2 linked regions of the Homo sapiens genome follow. The protein of the gene in region 2 purifies or fractionates together with the protein of the main gene of each other region. This does not show direct contact. Each region holds a gene or a part of one and is shown on either strand. Other genes may lie near its edges. The genes, in order: FBXO45 and NMNAT2.

Region 1 (7,277 bases), on a different chromosome or scaffold from region 2:
TTACAGGCATTAGCCACTGCACCCAGCCTAAATTAGGAGTTGTTGTTTTGATAATTGACTTGTAATAGAAATGTTCACATGATTCAAGATTCATATTATAATATGTAATAGATAATGTGTTCGTGTGAGTCAAGCTTCAATAGAAGCAAAATGATATCAAGCAAAATGTTTTCCTTTCATCCTTGTCGCTCAGCTACCCGGTTCCTCTCCATGTATGCAACCTGTCTTACTTTTTCTTTTGTATCCTTCCAGAGATATTTTAGGTTTCTGAGGTTTTTAATACTTTGCTTTTCTGCTATGTGCATTATAGATGTTGTAGACTTGTACCAATCACTGTTCATTCACACATTGTAGGACTTCCCTTGAATATTTTGAGGATAAAAGATTAATTCAAAAGGAGTCAAATAGTCTAGTAGGAAATCTTTCAGTCTAGTAGAGGAGAGAAAAATGTATAGAAAGAACTGCTAATGTGTGGTAGAAATTGCTCCTTACTGTTACAGACATAAAAAAGTATACTAGAAGTTCAGTGAAAGGAGGAATTTACAAACTGAGTGGAGGATTGGAGGAGATTTGAGGTTGAGCTTATATTTGAGCTGAATTTTAAAGATGAGGAGGAGTTTAGTATTTTAGGAAGAGGAAGTACTCTGAGCAGAAGCAGGACAAGAGGAAAGTAAAGGGTTTGTACAACATATATTTTTATTTAAAAAAATGAGTGCCAGGCACTATGCTCATTTGCAGATGCAATGGCAAATAAAACAAACACAGTCTCTTAATGGATGTCTTGCCTTATGGAGCTTACAGTCTAGTAGGGGAAATGGATATTAATCAAATAATCACACAGATGTAAAACCGCATCTGGTAAGTAGTATGAAGGAAAAATACCTAGTGCTCTGATTGTCAGTAGTGGAGGATTTAACCTGGTGGAGAGGTGAGGGAAGGCTTTCTCAGATCCATGTACTGAGACCTGAAGGATGATAAGTAGGCAAAGGGGAGAGAGAACAGCCTTCCAGGAGGGAACCTTATGAGTGTGAGGGATGGAAAATATGTCAATGTGGCTGGAGCACAGAGAGCAAAGGTGATGCTGGTTTGAGATAAGATGGAAGAAGTGGACTGGGACCAAAGCGTAGGGAAGCCATTTTGAGTTGTAAGCAAGAAGGATTTGAGGTGTGGGGATTGGTGATATGATTATTTTGCATTTTAAGAGATTATTTCTGACTTTAGTATGGAGAACTAAATTGTTGGTTGGAAGAGGACCTTAGAAATATGGTAGATCAATTAGGAAATAGGTAGTGGAGGAGATAGAAATGGGCAGATTTAGTAAGTAAAATCTATAGAATTGGCAATAGATTTGAAATAGGGATGAGGAAGAGGGAAGTGGTAAGGATGACTCCTAGTATTTGGCTCACATAATGTAGAGATCAGTTGATCTAGATTTTTTTTTTGAGATGAGGTCTTGCTCTGTTGCCCTGGCTGGAGTGCAGTGGAATGATCATAGCTCACTGCAGCCTTGAACTCCTGGGCTCAAGCGATCCTCCCACTTCAGCCTTCTGTGTGGCTGGGACTACAGGCATGTGCCACCATGCCCAGCTAATTTTTATTATTATTTTTTTTTGTAGAGATGTCTCATTATGTTGCCCAGGCTGGTGGGCTAGGTTTCGAAGAAATGGCAGTGAGTTCAGTTTTGGGAGAGCAGCATTTACAGTATTTTTGAGACAGAGATTTCCAATAGGCAGCTGTTGGAGGTTGGAGCTTAGAGGAGAGATCTGCGCTAAAGATATAAAATAATATAGTTAGATTGAATGAAAGGAAGTAGTGGGAAATATTATAAAGCTATATTATGGGACTAGATATATCATGGAGGGCTTTGAAATATAGCCTTCAGTCTATAGTTTGGGTTTTGTACTACAGTTGTAAACCATAGAAGTTTGAACAGCAGAGTGACAAAGGCTCTACTTCAAAAAGACTAGGCCATAGATGAGTTGGAGAGGGCAGCGGTTAGTGCCTATACCAGAGATACTTAAGACTGGAACAGGTACATCGAGGAGAGAAGGGGATGGCTGGAGAGCTGTCGTAGAAAACAATATACATAGGTAGACAGCTGACTGGGTGAATGGGATGAGGAAGATGGATGTGTCAAATGGATTTTCCCAGGAGCCTGGATAACAGAGAATGATAGGAAAAGGTTTAGGGATAGCATAGAACAGGAAAGTGGAGTTTATTAATCTGTTCAGTTGTTTTTTTTTTAAGTTCATATTTTACATATCACCCCGTAGCATTAATTATTTAAGTCATACTTGGCATCTGATGAGAATTCTCTAAAGTTCAGACTTAGATTTTAAGCTAGGTCTTCATGCTGCTTTTGCCATAACAAAATTCAGGTTGTGCATGGGAATGTGAGGCTATGGGTTGTTTTTAATTTATTAATTTGGTCTTTATTTTCCTTTTTTTTTTTTTTTTTGAGACAGAGTCTTGCTCTGTTGCCCAGGCTGGAGCGCAGTGGCACAATTTCAGCTCACTGCAACCTCTGCTTCCTGGGTTCAAGTGATTCTGCCTCAGCCTCCCAAGTAGCTTGGATTACAGGAGCCTGCCACTACGTCCAGCTAATTTTTGTATTTTTAGTAGAGACAGGCTTTCACCATGTTGGCCAGGACGGTCTCGATTTCTTGACCTCGTGATCCGCCTGCCTCGGCCTCCTGAAGTGCTGGGATTATAGGTGTGAGCCACCATGCCCGGCCTATTTTCCCATTTCATATGAAGTTTCCAGTATCTGTTTCTAAAAAGTAAAGACACTTAATGTAATCACAATATGGTTATCACATCTAAATATAAATGTACATTAATTCCTTAATATCAAAAATGCAGTGTTCAAATTGCCAGTTGTCTCATAAATGTTAAATGTTGCATTTTAAAGTTATATTTTATATAATCAAGATCTATATAAGGGTCCCATGGCAAAGGTTGATATGTCTCTTAAGGCTATTTTAGTCTACATATTCACTCACCATCTCCCCAACCTCCCACCTTATTTGTTGAGGAAACAAGGTGGTTTACTCTCAGCTCGATTTTGCGGATTTCATTATCATCGTGTTGCTTGACATGTTCTTCTGTCCTCTATTTCCTACTGAGGTGTGATCAATTTAGATTAGATTAGATTTTTTTTGCAAGTTATTTTGTACTAGACTCAGTGGTTAAAAGTGTGTTAGAAAATAAGAGCTGCTAAATTGTTACGTGGCACAGAAAGTGGTGGGCAAGCACCCGGCAGAGAGAGACATCAAGGGAATTGGGTGGCCCTGGTTAAGAATAGCTTAATAGAGGTGATCTTAGAGAATGTGTGGGAGAAGAAAGCACATATAATACTTTCAGCAAGAAGAACATCATCAAGGTAGAAAGGGAAATAGGAAGAATCAGATTTGGAGGGCTGTGAAAGCCAGGCAGAAGAATTTGCAGTTGGTGATGCTACTAAGTATGGAACTACCAGAGGTTATAGAACTGGGATGAGATATGTAGTAAAGGTGCTGTTTTAGAAAGACAGGTTTGGAAATAATTCAGATAGAGAGTTGAGGACTGAGTTTGGAGAATTTGGTTGGGGCAGAGGAAGGGTGGTCACCAAAAAAGGAAATGATACAGGATCAGTTCAGGGAAATAGGAAGATGTCATAGAAGTTTGAGGAAGAGAGGGCCGGGCGTGGTGGCTCACGCCTGTAATCCCAGCACTTGCGGAGGCCAAGGCAGGCGGATCACCTGAGGTCAGGAGTTTGAGACCAGCCTGGCCAACATGGTGAAACCCTGTCTCTATTCAAAATTCAAAAATTAGCCGGGTGTGGTGGTGCACGTCTGTAATCCCAGCTACTCGGGGGAGGCTGAGACAGGAGAATCGCTTGAACCCAGGAGGCAGAGGTTGCAGTGAGCTGAGATTGAGCCACTGCACTCCAGCTTGGGTGACAGAGTGAGACTCTGTCTCAAAAAAAAAAAAAAAGAAAAGGAAGTTTAAGGAAGAGGTTGTCAATAGTGTCAATGTGAAATTGGAATTTATAAGAATTGGGGAGTAGGCATAGGGAAATATTAATTAAATATTTTATAGTGAATTATTGATATTATTCTCTTGAGTTATTTAGACAGTATTTGCTATTTTGGGGACATGTTCCTTCCCCATTTAATCTTCTTTTCCTTTCTTTTCTTTGTTTCTTTTTTTTTTTTTGAGACAGGGTCTCACTTTGTCACCCAGGCTGGAGTGCAGTGGTGTGATTTTGGCTCACTGCATCCTCTGCCTCCTGGGCTCAAGCATTCCTTCTGCCTCAGCCTCCCAAGTAGCTGGGATTACAAGCGTGCACTGCCACGCCCAGCTAATTTTTTGTATTTTTACTAGAGTTGGGGTTTCGCCATGTTGCCCAGGCTAGTCTTGAACTCCGAGTTCAGGCGATTTGCCCACCTTGCCTTCCCAAAGTGCTGGGATTGCAGGGGTGAGCCACCGCGCCCGGCCCCTTCATTGAATCTTACGTTTTGGTCTTATAAGTGCCTTAAAGTATTTTATAATACGAGCAGATAGGAAAAACATTGGGAATGCCTCAGTTTTATTGTGAATGCATGGGATACTGGAAACAAATAGTTCTCTGTTTTTAAATCTGCGCTCTGCAGCTCACTGAAACGGTAGAGTGCCAGCGAATGGTAAACGAACAGGTGGTGAGGGGACTGGATCCTTGATCTCTCTTTGGGCCTCTTGCACTAACTCGCGGTTGAAATCCCTGAGAAGGACTAGGTGACCTTTAAGGGTCTTCCTAAATGCTGACATTCTATGCCTCTGGAGTTGATTTTTCTCAGGTTAGCTGAAGCATAGGTCCCAGCCTTCCACTGCTTTGGGTAGTTTGACTAAAGTAGAGAAGGGATTTTTTAAAAACATACTAGCCAGGCAGGCGTAGTGACTCGAACCTGTAACCCCAGCTACTCGGAAGACTGAGATGGGAGTATCACTTGAGCCAAGGAGTTCAAGGCTGCAGTGCGCTACGATTGTGCCACTGCACTGCAGTCTGGGTGACAGAGTGAGACGTTGTCTAAAAAAAATTTAAAATACACAAACTAAAAGTTTAAAATTGTTTATGAGAAATTGTTATTGTTTGTATAGAAGAGCTATTTTCATACCCTCTTTATTTTGGAAGTGTAAACCTTTGTATTTACTGAAGAGTCAACTAACTTGTCTTATTGATAGCTTCTCTTCATAAATTCTAGTAGTTGAACCTAGATGCTATCTAAGGGATTATTTGATTTGGTAAAATGAGATTGGTGATTTTTTTATTGTGTAAGTCATATCCAGCAAGTAGGCTGAGGATCTAAGGTAGTTTGTGTTTACTAAAATTTTTCATAAACTTTAGAGCTGCTAGGATTAAAGTTTCTGTTTTATGTAAAATATAATTCTTTTTGATGACAGCATTGCCCATATGAAAACTGTACATCTCAACTTTTTGGTATAAAAATATCAAATATAAACAAAAGTAGAGAAAATAGTTTGATGAACTTCCTTATACCCATCACCAAGCTTTGCCAATGATTAATTTATGGCCAGTCTAGTTTCATGTTTCTATTGCACACTCTCCCACTCCATCTCTGGATATTTCAAAGCAATTCCCAGATACCATTATTTTATCCATAAACGTTTCAGTATTATCTGTAAGATATAAGGATTTTTCTTTTTTGTATCTTTTGATGTTTTAAGAAGTCTGTTTGAGGAAATACTACAATTTAAAATTTTGGTCAGTGATGAAACGGTTGGCATTTATTTTTTAATGTTATTTATTCTGTTAGTATTCCATCCTGAAACTTCAGCCATTATTTGGAAATACTTGTGTTATTTTAAAATATATAACTTCGTTATTTAAAAACATACAGCGTGAAGTTTGGGTAATTTTTAATATTTAAGAAAAATAAAATTGTTATTTATTTGGTCTGTTTTTCATCTTTTTAGATACGTGCTTTTCAACATGCCTTCAGCACTAATGACTGCTCCAGGAATGTCTACATTAAGAAGAATGGCTTTACTTTACATCGAAACCCCATTGCTCAGAGCACTGATGGTGCAAGGACCAAGATTGGTTTCAGTGAGGGCCGCCATGCATGGGAAGTGTGGTGGGAGGGCCCTCTGGGCACTGTGGCAGTGATTGGAATTGCCACAAAACGGGCCCCCATGCAGTGCCAAGGTTATGTGGCATTGCTGGGCAGTGATGACCAGAGCTGGGGCTGGAATCTGGTGGACAATAATCTACTACATAATGGAGAAGTCAATGGCAGTTTTCCACAGTGCAACAACGCACCAAAATATCAGGTGAGAAACTGGGGTTTTTCTCAAGTATGGGCCTTTGTCAAATCACGCCTTAATTTGTTTTAAATTTACAAATTTTTATATAGCAGTTTTTGTCTTTTTGGTAATTTTTATTTTTATTATTTTTTTATTTTTTCAGATACCCAGACTTCAAGGAGATTTTTTTTTTTTAATGTTAGGGGGTTATAGTTAATTTTGTTGGGTGTTATATTTTGATTTTGGCTATGCAGAAAAATATTCTTTTTTTTTTTTTAGACAGAATCTCACTCCGTTGCCCAGGCTAGAGTGCAGTGGCGCCAACTCGGCTCACTGCAACCTGCACCTCCCAGGTTCAAGCAATTCTCTGCCTCAGCCTCAGTAGTTGGGATTACAGGCGCCCACCACCATGCCTGGCTAATTTTTGTATTTTTAGTAGAGACAGGGTTTCACCATCTTGGCCAGGCTGGTCTTGAACTCCTAACCTCGTGATTCACCTGCCTTGGCCTCCCAAAGTGCTGGGATTACAGGCGTGAGCCACCATGCCCAGCCTCAAGGAGATTTTTTGACCATTTTTAAATAAATGTATAAATGATCTATCTCAATATTTGTTTCCTAATACAACTTTAAGCAGCCTATTTTTGCTCCAGATCAGGGGTTGGCAAACTTTTTGTAAGGGCCACGTAGTAAATCTTTAAGTCTTTGCAGTCCATATGGTCTCTGTCACAACTTTTTTTTTTTAATGTCATTTTCAAGGTAAGGATCTATCACGAGTTTCAACTCTATTTATAGTACAAAAGCAGTCATCGATAATACGTAAATGAACGAACATGGCTGTATTCCATAGACCTTATTTATGGGCTGCAGGACAGATTTGGTCCAGGGGCTGTAGTTTGCCAGTTCATGCTCTATATCAAGCTTGTCCAACCCACAGCCTGCATGCAGCCCAAGATGGCTTTGATTGTGACCCAATGCAAATTCATAAACTTTCT
Region 2 (7,277 bases):
GCTGGTAAGAATTTGGAGCAACAGAAAGTCTCATTCATTCCTGGTAGGAATATAAAATGGCACAACCACTTTGGAAGACAATTTGACAGCCTCTTAAAAAGCTAAACATAATCTTACCATATGATTCATATGGCTCCTTGTGTAGATTCCCTAATTTACGTCTTCACAAAAACCTGCACATGAATGTCATATCAGCTTTATTTATAATCACTAAAAACTGGAAGCAGCAAAGATGTTCTTTGGTAGATGAATGGATAAACTGAAGTACTTCCAGACAATAGACTATCATTTAGTGATTAAAAGAAATGAGCTGCCGGCCGGGCGCGGTGGCTCACGCCTGTAATCCCAGCACTTTGGGAGGCCGTGGCAGGCGGATCTCCTGAGGTCAGGAGTTTGAGACCAGTTTGGCTAACATAGTGAAACCCCATCTCTACTAAAAATACAAAAAATTAGCTGGGCATGGTGGTAGGCGCCTGTAATCCCAACTACTTGGGAGGCTGAGGCAGGAGAATCGCTTAAGCCCGGGAGGCGGAGGTTGCAGTGAGCTGAGATGGCGCCACTGCACTCCAGCTTAGGGGACAAGAGCGAGACTTCCTCTCAAAGAAAAAGAAAGAAATGAGCTATCGAGCCATGAAAAGACATGGAGGAACTTTAAATGCATACTGCTTAGTGAAAACAGCAAGTCCAAAGAGGGTACATACTGTATGATTCCAACCATATGGCATTTTGGAAACGTCAAATCTATAGAAAAAGTAAACAGAACCGTGGTTGCCAGGGGTTTGGGAAAAGAGGAGGCATGAATGGGTGGAACACTGAATTTTTAGGGGATGAAAATACTGGGTATGATACTATAATGAAGGATACAATTGTCAAAACCCACAGAACTCTACAACACAGAGTAAATCTTAATGTAAACTATTGACTATAGTTAATAATGTGTTAATAATGATTTGTCAAGTATAACAAGTGTGCCACACTAGTGCAAAATTATTAATATAATGGGGGAAACTGCATGAAGGGAGGTAAAAAGGTGGGAGGGGTCTGAATATATGGAAGTCTATGTACAATCTGCTCAATTATTCTGTAAATCTAAAACGGTGTTACAAATAGTCTATTCATTTTTTTTTTAATCTAAGAAATTTCACATTGAAAGAAAAAGAAGCAGCCAAGTGCCGTGGCTCATGCCTGTAACCCTTGCATTTTGGGAGGCCAAGGCAGGCAGATCACTTGAGGCCGGGAGTTTGAGGCCAGCCTGGCCGACACGTGGAACCCGTCTCTACTAAAAATACAAAAATTAGCCAACCATGGTGGCTCATGCCTGTAATCTCAGCTACTTGGGAGGCTGAGGCATGAGAATTGCTTGAACCCAGGAGGTAGAGGTGGCAGTGAGCCAAGATCGCACCACTGCACTGCAGCCTAAGTGACAGCGTGAGACTTTGTCTCAAAAAACAAAGAAAGAAAGAAAAAGAAGCAAATATGGTGAGATCTTTTTTCAAGTGTTAAGAAATCCAGCAAAGTAATTCTGAAAACTTGCTTGTAAACTACACAGCCAGCTTTGCTGCCCAGGCCGCCTTCTACTTAAAAATTCCTTCACTATAAACTCCATGCTAGATTTTTCCTCAGTGGAATAAGCTCAGGCCCTGTTGACAATTTTTGTTTTGTTTTGTTTTGTTTTTAGATGGAGTCTCCCTCTGTCACCCAGGCTGGAGTGCAGTGGCACGATCTCAGCTCACTGCAATCTCTGCTGCCCGGGTTCAAGCGATTCTCCTGCCTCAGTCTCCCGAGTAACTAGGATTACAGGCGCCTGCCACCGCGTCTGGCTAAGTTTTGTATTTTTAGTAGAAAAGGGTTTCACCATGTTGGCCAGGCTGGTCTTGAACTCCTGACCTTGTGATCCACCTGCCTCGGCCTCCCAAAGTACTGGGATTACAGGTGTGAGCCACCACACCCGGCCCCTGTTGACATTCTTAAAAGGAATTGTTTTGGAAGTAAGATAGAACCAGACTTTTCAGTCCCTTCCTTGTTTGCCGAAATTTATTGCGAAAATAAAATTGGGTTTGTCTGATAGATTTGAAAAAGCAATATTGCATACCTTCCAAAGGATAAAAGGCTTTTATCTGGCCAAATTTTTCGTCTCAACCAAGTCTAAGATGGTGGTCTTCTGGGTTGATTGCTAATTCTTTGTAATTATCTACAAGGCCCTTTAAATTTGTTTTGGTGGTTTTTCTCTTCTGAATAATTAGATGAGGCAATCAGCACATCTTTCATATTATAAGGAGGCTTTTATTTATTTATTTTTTAAATACTACTCCTCCACATTATAACTCCTGCAAGTGACAATAGGGGTAAATTCCAATCTGTAGCTCTAATGGCTGCTAATGAGGCGCTTGTTTTAAATCCTTCTGAGCTACACTGGCTCCTCCCACAGAGGACTTTTAAAACAGGATGAATCTCCTTGAGTTCTAAATCCTTTTGCTTTGGGGGCTGAAATCTGGTTCTGTAACCTTTTGAATCACCAACATTTGCTTTGAAAGTTGACATTTTCTATTTAAATGGCAAGAGAGATGGGAAATAAACCCCAGCATTACAGAGCTGAGCGTATTGATTTCAATTATCACCTTTAATCCATGCCTTTCCTCTTTATAATGTGTGGGTTTCTTCTCTTAATTAGAAAGAGCCAGGGATTATCTGCACAAAACTGGAAGGTTTATTGTGATTGGCGGGATTGTCTCCCCTGTCCACGACTCCTATGGAAAACAGGTGGGTTCCTTCCTGTGCCCCTCTCCTCTTCAATCCCCGTCCCCCCATCCCTGGCCTGATAGTTCCTGGCAGAAAAACTGCCCCCGCTCTGTCTCTGCTAAGATTCCTGGAAACACAAAATGCCCAGGTCCATGCGTCTATCCTGCTTCCCATCTCAGGACCACAGTCGGACCTGAGTGGATGGGCGTTGAAGCAGTAGCTGGAAAGACCAGCTGTCCATGACCGTAGAGCCACTTACGGGCTGGTCAGGACTCACTGAAAGAGGAGCAGAAACACCCACTGGGTGTGGCTTGGTATGGTGGATGCCAGATTGGCAGCTGGTTATGGGTTGAGCTGCACTGGGCAAGTCTTCTCAGGATTTTAGGAGAAAACGGCCTATGCCTTTTATAATCTGATTTAAAATTCATATCCCTGCTCATCCCTCCCTGCCACGTGTCCCGGCAAATCTAGGAGCTCCACCCATCATTCCCCCTTTCTCCCACAGATGCACCTTGGTGGGCTCTGGGGAAACTCACCTAACCAGCCAGACTGAGCCATAAGACAAGGCCACATTTGCTGAGTTAAGTCTCATCTCTGCAGGGCACACAGGGGCTGCTTCGCAAATGGAGGCTCATCTATCGACCTTGTTGGGGTGGTATATACCACACACCCTTTATTTGTTTCCTTTCCCACCACCATTCCAGGCCTGCCTGTGTGGCAAACGGACAAGTAAAGGGGTCACATTCTTCATTCCCTCTCACCACTGAAAAATGGCTGCACTTTAACAATGGGTGGGCTTGGGCTGGTATCCCAAGGATGTTGTGGGGAACGGAGGGAGTCTCCCAATGATTGCTCTGTTGCTTCCCAGGGCCTCGTGTCAAGCCGGCACCGTCTCATCATGTGTCAGCTGGCCGTCCAGAATTCTGATTGGATCAGGTAGGACTGGCCTGAAGATGCCAGAGGCAGTGGCCCGGAGACTTACTGGGAGTGGGGTGGGGAAAAAAGAAGAGTTCCAGCAGTAATTTGGATCCTGAAAGGATGGGGAGGCAGGGGCAAGATATTAGCCTTGTGGAGGCAATAAGTAGACCTCCAGGGATACCTATAACTTTATTTTTGAACCAAACTGTGAGGCCCATGAATGTAAAGAATGTGCTTGAATGTTTCATCTGCTTTGACATCTCTGAATCCTGGCATGATTCTTGGAGCTTCCAGAAATATCACTGGGTTTTGGGTGAAGCATGACCAGAAAATCAGAAATGCCTCTCACTTTCATTCCCACTAACTTCCGCGAACCCTCACTACCTTTCAGGGAATGTTCCCTCACCTTGACAATTTCCCATTCCTGAACTCAGGCTCCCTAAGGGCCCCACACTGGCCCCAGGAGACAGGTGCGGGCCTGCCCCTAAGGGCAGCCACACCAAATCACACCCACTGGGTGGCTTTCCTGCTCACTGCCTTTCTGGCCAGACGTGCTGCTAGGAAGGCACCTCCACCCACCTCCGCTGAGCTTGCAGTGTAATTAAAGCAAGCTTCCACTAATTATGCTAATGATGTTCCCCAAAGTTCTTACCGTTATAATTTGCATGATAAGATGATGTTTTAAAAAAATAATGGCATGCCATTTGTGCTGTAATTTCCCCCACTATGGAAAAATAAGCAGCACCTAGAGGTTTCCATGAAAGGGGCGAAGTGACGGGATGCTGACCTCAGAATGAGGAATGCAGAGAGTTTGCCCAGGAAGAGCGGGGTGGGCGGGAATGAGAGCAGTGAAGGGAAGCCACAGTAATAATTCAGCAGTGATCCTTGCTATTTGTGCGCAGTGATTTGTGTGAGAAGCACATGCCCTTTATAGACTTTCTTATCCCCCTAAAGATAAAGCTTAGGTAGAGAGACAGCTGCTTTTTCTCAGGTGAGAAACAGGCCCAGAGAAATGAAAGGGCTTGAGCAATGATACATTGATACACCCGTAGGCAAGAAAGGATTAGAAATGAGGCCTCTTAACATTGTAAGTCCTGATCTTCTGGGGATGCTGGGGACCTTGAATAAGGGTCCAGTGAGGAAATCACTGGGCAGGAGACTGTTACTGCTTGGATGTGCTTAGAAGATTCTGGAATAATTCCCTCATGCATTCCACAACTATCTACTGAGTGCCTACCACCTTCCCTGGGCTGCTCTAAGTTGGAAAATCAGAATCCTGAGAATTGAGATCACTAGGGAGTCTAAGAGCTGCCTCTAGAGATGGGGTTGGCTGGGGTGGGGCGCCTGACACTGGGATCCCATTTAGCCAGGTGAAGTGTTTGTTTCCGGCACAGGTGCGCTCCCAGGGCACAGGGCCTGGCTAGGGATCTAGGGGGAGCCAGGGTCCCGGCAAATGGCAAGCTGACTCTCTAAGGGTTTTCAGCTAGTGGGATCTCATCTCTGGGCACTTTAGGCATGTGTATGTGGTGGGGTGGTGGGGTAGGGTGGTGGTGTTAAGGGGATGCATGACTGCTAAGAAAATGTTAGACAAGGCAGGGCACGGGGGCTCATGCTTGTAATCCCAGCACTTTGGGAGGCCGAAGTGGGCGGATCACCTGAGGTCAGGAGTTTGAGACCAGCCTGGACAATGTGGTGAAACCCCATCTCTGCTAAAAATACAAAAATTAACTGGGCATGGTGGCATGTGCCTGTAGTCTCAGCTACTCAGGAGGCTGAGGCAGGAGAATCACTTGAACCCAGGAGATGGAGGTTGCAGTGAGCCGAGGTCTTGCCACTGCACTCCAGCCTGGGTGACAGACCAAGACTCTGTCTAAAAAAAAATCATTAAGTTGGCAATTAAGCCCCAGTGCTGCCTCAGTCTGGGGCTGGATCCCTGCTTACGTCACAAGCAGTATCCCGGAGGGGCTGGCCATTGTTGTGTCTGCGCCCTCTCATCTGACTGTCATGTCTCACCTCCACGCCCACAAGGCACCTCACTGCAGAGGGAGGCAGGGAAGACTGATTCTCGAGGGTTTGCAGCCTGGCAAGGATAACCTGGGCCACCACTTGACAAAGGCCTGGCTCAGCTAATCCTTGTCACAATCCTCAAGGGTCCAAAGGAGGGTTTATTTTGCAGGTAACAATAAGAGCAAGATGCTGTACTGAGCATTGTACACATAAAACTTACCGAGCCTTTCTAACAAAACTGTAAGCTCGTTACTATTGTTATTCCCATTTTACAGATGGGGAAGGTGAGGCACTGGGAGATCACATAACTTTCCCAAAGCCACACAGTTGCAAAGAGCTGAGGCTGGAATTAAACCCAGGCAGACTGGCACCAGCATCTCTTCTCATAAGCCTATGCCATGCTCCTCTCATTTTACAGAGGAGGAAACTGAAGCTCAGAAGAGTGTTTCACACCCAGGTTTTATCTGATTCAAGATCTAAGCGCATGGTATGGCCAGATCTGCCATGCTTCCTGAGCTATGATTTTTGGAAGGTAACAATAAGGAAAGAATATGAGAACAGAAACCAAGGGAAACTTCTTTCCGATGATGTTAGGGTGGACCCTTGGGAGTGCTACCAGGACACCTGGCAGACGACCTGCAGCGTGTTGGAACACCACCGGGACCTCATGAAGGTGAGCTGGGCCAAGCCTGGGGATGCGTGAACCACCAGAGTGCAAGGGCGGAAGGGGCTGGACCCACAGAAACCAGGCAGGGAGAGGAGAGGGTGCTGCTGGCCTATCGACCTGCTTTCAGCCTCTTATTTCTCTGCCGGTTGTGAGAGAGACCAGCCTGTGAACAGCATGAAGAACAATGAATGAGGAACCCCGAGTAGCACCAGGGTCTGTTCCCTGTCTTCCACCCTCTGTCTTGACCTCCCATTTGGGGTGTTGCTGCTGGGTATGGTGGGCAGCTTTTATTAGCTGGGAGCAAGTTCAAGGTGGGATTAAGGAGACCACAGTGATAGGACTTCAGAAAGTGAGGGAGGAGGAAACTGGACAATGAAAGGCAGGAGAAGAGAGAAGCACTTAGGGGAGGTACAAGCAGCCTGTGGGGGCCCCACTGGCCCCCTTACTCCAGGACAGGCTGCTGTGGCTGGGGCACTTCACACCTGCCAGTCATTGCACCCCATTCCCACCCATTCCTCCTCACAAGAGCCCCACAGGCAGATGGTGTCTGATGCCTGTTTTATTAGTGGGTAAAAGGGATCACAGAGAGGAGTCCACATATCTGAGCACACACAGTGAGTGTTTGGTGAACACAGATAGGCGAGAGCTTCTGTATTCCCCATTGGGGCCTGGGGCCTGTGGCCGGGCTGCAGAGACTTCAGGGCTGGTTGCCAGGTTAGAATGGGCTCCATACCAGCCAGCAGCACTGGCCAGAGTGTGCAGAAAGCACCCTTCCCAGATCAGTGCCAACCCATCCACTCCACAGTGACAGGATGAAAAGCAATGCCACCGATGGCGAGAAGCCTGACCAACCAAGACAGCAAACAGTCAATTCTGCTCGCCTCCACGGACTCTGCAGCAGAGCCCTCCGCAGCCCCAGATAGCAGTCCACCTGGCACTGCCCTCC

Evidence for each region.
Region 1: the proteins of NMNAT2 (region 2) and FBXO45 purify together in Homo sapiens (co-immunoprecipitation; 3 studies listed by BioGRID and IntAct, with this or other methods). This does not show direct contact.

The regions. Positions count from the first base shown.
Region 1 is NC_000003.12:196,571,498-196,578,774, forward strand, and holds part of FBXO45 (F-box/SPRY domain-containing protein 1), read left to right. Parts: intron 1-5,955; coding exon 5,956-6,312; intron 6,313-7,277. UniProt on the Homo sapiens protein: Component of E3 ubiquitin ligase complex consisting of FBXO45, MYCBP2 and SKP1. Functions in substrate recognition but also plays an important role in assembly of the complex.
Region 2 is NC_000001.11:183,289,188-183,296,464, reverse strand, and holds part of NMNAT2 (nicotinamide/nicotinic acid mononucleotide adenylyltransferase 2), read left to right. Parts: intron 1-2,671; coding exon 2,672-2,760; intron 2,761-3,607; coding exon 3,608-3,675; intron 3,676-6,258; coding exon 6,259-6,337; intron 6,338-7,277.